2 linked regions of the Homo sapiens genome follow. The protein of the gene in region 1 purifies or fractionates together with the protein of each later gene. This does not show direct contact. Each region holds a gene or a part of one and is shown on either strand. Other genes may lie near its edges. The genes, in order: NME5 and FABP3.

What was found.
Region 2: the proteins of NME5 (region 1) and FABP3 purify together in Homo sapiens (affinity purification with mass spectrometry; one large-scale study listed by BioGRID and IntAct). This does not show direct contact.

The regions. Positions count from the first base shown.
Region 1 is NC_000005.10:138,122,381-138,126,211, reverse strand, and holds part of NME5 (nucleoside diphosphate kinase homolog 5), read left to right. Parts: intron 1-3,831. UniProt on the Homo sapiens protein: Functions as part of axonemal radial spoke complexes that play an important part in the motility of sperm and cilia. Does not seem to have nucleoside diphosphate kinase (NDPK) activity.
Region 2 is NC_000001.11:31,364,439-31,367,431, reverse strand, and holds the end of FABP3 (fatty acid-binding protein, heart), read left to right. Parts: coding exon 1-39; intron 40-1,492; coding exon 1,493-1,546; 3' UTR 1,547-2,179; downstream 2,180-2,993. UniProt on the Homo sapiens protein: FABPs are thought to play a role in the intracellular transport of long-chain fatty acids and their acyl-CoA esters.

The sequences.
Region 1 (3,831 bases):
TTCAGTTGCCTTTGATTTTACTCATTAAATTAATCCGCTAGGCATGAGTTTAGAGATATAGTTAGACATTTGAGAAGCAGCAAGTTGTAGGATAAATATAAAATCATTAATTACTTAGCACATTGTAGCTCTTTTGCTGTGAAGTTCTTTGGAGCAAGTACTCAGAGTTTGTGGTATGAGCGTCCTCTTACTTAGCAGTTGATGAACAACTATGTGCAAAACTTTATACGATGATTCACTCAAGCAAGTTATCAAGATATTTAAAGGCATGTTCTTAACCCTTGAAAAAAGTAATGCTGGCTGGACGTGGTGGCTCACAACTGTGATCACAACACTTTGGGAGGCTGAAGCGGATGGATCACTTGAAGTTGGGAGTTCAAGACCAGCCTGGCCAGCATGGTAAAACCCTGTCTCTACTAAAAATACAAAATTAGCCAGGCGTGGTGGCGCACGCTTGTAATCTCAGCTACTCAGAAGGCTGAGGCAGGAGAATTACTTGAACCTGGGAGGCAGAGGTTACAGTGAGCCGAGATTGTACCACTGTACTCCAGCCTGGGTGACAGAGTGAGACTGTCTGAAAGAAAAGAAAAGAAAAAAGTAATGCTCTCTTCTTTCCCTTTTTTCTGGGGGGTGGTCACAGGGTCTCTCCATGTCACTCCAGATGGAATGCAATGGTGCAATCATAGCTCACTACAACCTTAAACTCTTGTCCTCAAGCAATCCTCCTACCTCAGCCCCTTGAGTAGCTGGGACTACAGGTGTGTACCACCATGCTCGGCTAATTTTTTAATTTTTTTGTAGAGATGGGGTCTCACTACATTACCCAGGCTGGTCTCTTTTCCCTTTTAATATAAATGGCTAATTCAAAGTTTTGCTATATTCCATTTCTTCAACAAATTTATTAAGTTGCCTACTATTTGCCATAAATGCAAAGCTGAATAAGAAGATATCCCTGCTATCAAAATGATTATATTTGAAAATAAATATACAGTCTGGGTGTGGTGGCTCACACCTGTGATTCCAACACTTTGTGAGGCTGAGGCGGGAGAATCACTTGAGTCCAGGAGTTGGAGACCAGCCTGGGCAACATAGCAAGATCTCATCTCTACAAAAAATAAAAAATTAGCTGGGCATGGTGGCCCATGTCTGTAGTCCCAGCTACTCTGGAGGCTAAAGTGGGAGGATCACTGGAGCCTAGGAGGTTAAGGCTGTTTGAGCTGTGATGGCACCAGAGTGCTCCAGCCTGGACAACAGAGTGAGACCCTGTCTCAAACAAACAAACAAATAAATAAATAAAACAAGGATGAGAGAAAACTTAAAAAACTTAAAGTTCATCCATGTAAGAAACATGAAAACACTCTTTTTATTCTCTCATTAATTTATTCAGCCCTAGCCTGGCATGGTGGCTAACACTTGTAATCCCAACACTTTGGGAGGCAGAGGCAGGAGGATTGCTTGAGCCCAGAAGTTTGAGAGCAGCCTGGGCAATATGGCAAGACCCTGTCTCTACCAAAAATAAAAAAATTAGCTGGGGGTGGTGGTGTACACCTGTGGTCCCAGCTACTTGGGAGGCTGAGGTGGGAGATTCACTTGAGCCCAGCAGGTCGAGGCCGCAGTGAGCTGCATTTGCGCTGCTGTACTTCACTTGGGTGACAGAGTGAGACCCTCTCAATAAATAAATAAATGAATAATTCACTAATGAAATTAAGAAAACAATTCCAGGGAAGAAAATATTTGCAAACCATGTATCTGATAAGGGGTTAATGTCTAAAATATATAAGGAACTCTTACAAATCAATATCCAAAAAACCCCTAAATAACCCAATTAAAAAATGGGCAAAGGACTTGAATAGATATTTTTCTAAAGAAGACATACAAATAACCAACAAGTATATGAAAAGGTGCTTAAGGCCGGGTGTGGTGGCTCACGCCTGTAATCCCAGCTCTTTGGGAGGCCGAGGCTGGCAGATCACCTGAGGTCAGGAATTCAAGACCAACCTGGTCAACAAAGTGAAGCCCTGTCTCTACTAAAAAAAAAATACAAAAAATTAGCCAGGTGTGGTGGCACGTGCCTATAATCCCAGCTACTCGGGAGGCTGAGGCAGGATAACCACTTGAACCCAGGAGGTGGAGGTTGCAGTGAGCCAAGATCGCGCCATTGCACCCCAGCCTGGGCAACAAGAACAAGACTCCATCTCAAAAAAAAAAAAAAAAAAAAAAAAAAAAGTGCTCAAAATCACTAATCATCAGGGAAATACAGATCAAAACCACGGTGAGATATCACCTCACACGTTAGGATGGCTATTATCAAAAGAAAAAAAGGTAAATATTGGCAAGCATATAGGGAAATTGGAATGCTTGTACACATTTGGTGGAGATTAAAAATGGTGCTGCCACTATGGAAGACAGTATGGAAGTTCCTCAAGAAACTAAAAATAAAACTGTTACATGATCTAACAATCCCACTGCTGGATATATATATCTGAAAGAATTGAATCAGGATCTTGAAGAGATACCTGCACCAATGAACCACAATAATGTTCATTGTGGCATTATTCACAATAACCAAGATATGGAATCAACCTAAGTGTCCATCAGTGGGTTAATGGATAAAGAAAATGTGGTGTATATACACAATGTAATACTATTCAGCCTTAAAAAGGAAGAGATTCTGTCATTTTTGACAACATGGATGAACCTGGAGGACATTATATTAAGTGAAATAAGCCAGGCACAGAAAGACAGATATCACATGATCTCACTTATATGTGGAATCTAAAAAAACTTGAACTCGGAGAGTAGAATGGTGGCCACCAGGAGCTTGCAAGAGAGAGTAGGGGATGGAAATGTTGATCAAAGGATACTTATTCCTGTGATAGTAGGAATAAGTTCAACATGGTGACTATAGTTAATAATAATGTGTTGTTGAAAATTGCTAAGACAGTAGATTTTAAGTGTTCTCACCACAAAAAAAGATAAGTATTTGAGGTAATGCATATATTAATTAGCTTGATTTGTCTTTCCATAGTGTTTACATATTTCAAAACAACATGTACACAATAAATGTATACAATATTTCTTATCTATTAAAAAATTTGTTGTGCTCACTTCAGCACATATGCTAAAATTGGAACGATACAGAGAAGATTAGCTTGGCCCCTATGCAAGGATGACATGCTTTTAAAATAAAAAGAAATTTTAAGTACACTTATAAGTTAAAAAAAATTTGGGGGACCAGGGGTGGTGGCTCATGCCTGTAATCCCAGCACTTTGGGAGCCTGACATGGGCAGATCACTTGAGGTCAGGAGTTCGAGACCAGACTAGCCAACATAGTGAAACCCCATCTCTGCTAAAAATAAAAAAAAATTAGCCTGGCATAGTGGCATGCATCTGTAATCCCAGCTACTCAGGAGGCTGAGGCAGGAGAATTGCTTGAACCCAGGAGGCAGAGGTTGCAGTGAACCGAGATCGCACCACTGCACTCCAGCCTGGGCAACAGAGCAAGACCATGTCTCAAAAAAAAAAAAAAATTAAAAAAATTTTTGTTTAATGATTAGTACCTGATAAATTGGCATAATGAACTTTATATAATATATGAATAAAACATTTGCCCATATTGAGAAAAAATTGTATACATTAATTGTGTGCAATTTTGTGTACATGAGTAATACTTCAATAAAGCTGTAAAAAGGAAAATTCCATTCACAATGACATTAAAAATAATATAATATTTAGGCACAATTTTTTTTTTTTTTTTTTTTTTTTTTTTAGAGACAGAGTTTCGCTCTTGTCACCCAGGCTGGAGTGCAGTGGCCCGATCTCAACTCACT
Region 2 (2,993 bases), on another chromosome or scaffold:
ACACTTGTGCGGGAGCTAATTGATGGAAAACTCATCCTGGTAAGATGGGCAACTTTGGAGCTATATCTGATTGGTTATTACTACTGCTCTTTCAGCCAAGCCTGTTCTAAAAAGCCAAGTCCTCCCCTGAGAGCTGTAGAAGCTGGGACAAGAGAGTGGTTGTGGGTCAGGGTGGTATCAGGTGGGAATTTTCTGTGTAGTGGCTTTGGACTCACACAGGCCGGAACTCAAATCTTACCTTATAGGCTACATGACTGTGGGCAAATCACCTTTTCCAAGTGCAACTGTAAAACGGGTATTAATAATACCAACCTTGTAGGGCTGCTGGGAAGCCTGTAAGAGACAGTGTATGCACAGCACAAAGCATCACTGATTGAGGAACACAGCAGGTGCTCCATGTCCTTTGTTTGCTCTTCCTGTGTTTCTACCTTGCCTCACCTCAGGAAGAAGTAGAAAACAGGGCCAAATCTGATCCCAGGCCCTCTAGGAGGGGCTCCCATTGCCTATCTCAGCATTCCCTTTCCTCTCCTCCCTAGGACTGCATTGTCACTTGCAGGGACAGGCTCGTGACTGGTGGGGACACTGAATGACAGTACAGTCCTTTCTTCCCCATTCTAGTCCTACCCCATTTTCATGCTTTCTATGTCTGGCCTACTGAAACTACTTGACTACTGCTTGGGTAGGAAGTACCACAGCCAGGCTGGCAGATCTGTTCAAGCTTGGGGACTTCACTTGGAGAATCTAGCCTTGACTGAATTCCCCCCAGACCCAGGGAGAGCAGCCAACTGTGGATTCTGCCTAACCACAGGGCCTCAGGTTTTCACCTAGGCATCTTCACTGCACACCTTCTTGGGTCAGCATAACCTGTTAACTGCATTCTTGTACTCATGTGGGACAGGGGTCCCCTTGAAGTTTGGAATGAGGTGCCTAGCTTTGGTGGGGATGTGATATGCAGGACCAAATTCTCAGTGGCAGCTGAACTATGGTGAGGCCATGGGTCTGGCTCTATGATGCCAGACCGGATAGTGGGAGGTACAGGGCTCTGGCCCTGGCACTACTCTAAGTTAGGGAAGGATTGGAGTTAGTAGCCAAACACAGTCCTTTCCTGAGTCTCTGGATATTTTTCCTATTTGTCAACTATATGCCAGGCACCATCTTAGACACTAAGGATGAAGGAAGCCAAATGGTATAAGGGAAGGAAAAACACTCAGGATCTTGACCAAATTACTTCCTCTCTAAAGGCTCGTTTTTTCCAAATCTCTAAAATAAGAATTACAATGCCTATCTTAAGGATTTGCTGTGCATATCAGAAAAAAAAAATTATGTATGTATACACACACACACACACACACACACACACACACACACATACATACATATAGCCGGCACATAGTAGGTACTCAAGTGACAATTATCAGGAGGAAGGGAGGGTAGAATGCTCGCAATGGTGTTCCTGGCTCCACCCCCCATCTCACTCTGTCTTTCCTTCCAGACACTCACCCACGGCACTGCAGTTTGCACTCGCACTTATGAGAAAGAGGCATGACCTGACTGCACTGTTGCTGACTACTACTCTGCCAATCGGCTACCCCTCGACTCAGCACCACATTGCCTCATTTCTTCCTCTGCATTTTGTACAAATCCACGAATTCTTCTGGGGTCAGGTGCCACTGACCGGGATCCAGTTCCAGTTCCCATGGTGTATGTGGTTTTTTTTTTTTTTTTTTAACTGCACTCATAGGGTGCTCTGAGGTCAATAAAGCAGAGCCAAGGCCACCCAGTTGCCTTTTTGCCTTTGGTAACATAACTCTGGGAGTCTTGGTTTATCCTGTGTGTCAGAGAGTGGGCAGAAATAACGGCCTGAAGGTTACTGAGGAAGAAGCACTGGATGGGAGACTGAAATGGACAGTCTCGGAGCCTGTTAATCAGCTGATCACCTTACACATTTAATAATAAAAGAGCTGTACCTACACGTTGCCTTTACACTGCCCCCCCTCCATGGTCAAATGACCTAGTTCAGTCAGTGATGGGGCTTCCCCAGGTTTGGCTATTGAACTGTCACTTCAGGCCCATCCTACACTGAAAGCTCTTGGGTCTGGCTGTTCTCTGTGAAATGCTGTAGTCTCTCCCTTTCCAGAATTCAGGTTCAGGGCACAGAACCCAGGCTTGTACCATGGTGGTGGGAGAAAATGACCACTGGCCAAGAGGACTGCTGACCTGTGCACCAGGCTAGTACTTATGACTACAAATTCTTACTGCTTCTCTAATCAACTCTGAGGGAAGAGGGCATCTGATCATTACAAAAGGGAGGGCTTATAAGTGATCTCCCAAGAAGGCAGTGATCTGCTAGTGCCTTTGGCTCTGTACCTCTGCTGGGCATCTCTCCAAGGTCTAAGGTAACATATTAAATGTTTTTGTCAGCTAATGCAGGCTCAGTGACTTTAAGTCTGTAAGTTACCCAGGAAGAAGGATTATAGGAAAAATAACTCAGTAAGTTTAAAACCAAACACATTTCCATTTAGTGACAGGAATTTAAGCAAGGACCTGAAGTAGAATCAACTGATTCACACAGTAGTAAATACAAAGTAGAACAATGATCTTGGCTTCGCTGTCTGGTTCAGTGGTCTGCTGGAATGCAATACACAAGTTAAGTCACACTGCAGACTGTTTTCTAGCTGTGGCCGCTGGATGCCACTTCTAGCATAGTAGAACTATGTTAGGAGGAATGGGAAAAGTGAGCACCACTTCTCACCATGTTCCCCCCTCCTGCTGCCAGTCTCTGCTCCCATGTTGGATGCAGCAGAGATCACCCACCAGTTGGCCCAGGACAGACCAATAGGAAGGGTCCAATCACTCTAACTACAGCCGAACTCACCTCCACAACAGTCTCTGTGGCTCTAGCCTGGACTCCTTTACAGGAATCCAGCTCTGGCAGTGGCAGCTGGAGAGGGTAATAGGACCTCCTGCTGAATGAAGGAAGTTGGGTGAATGAA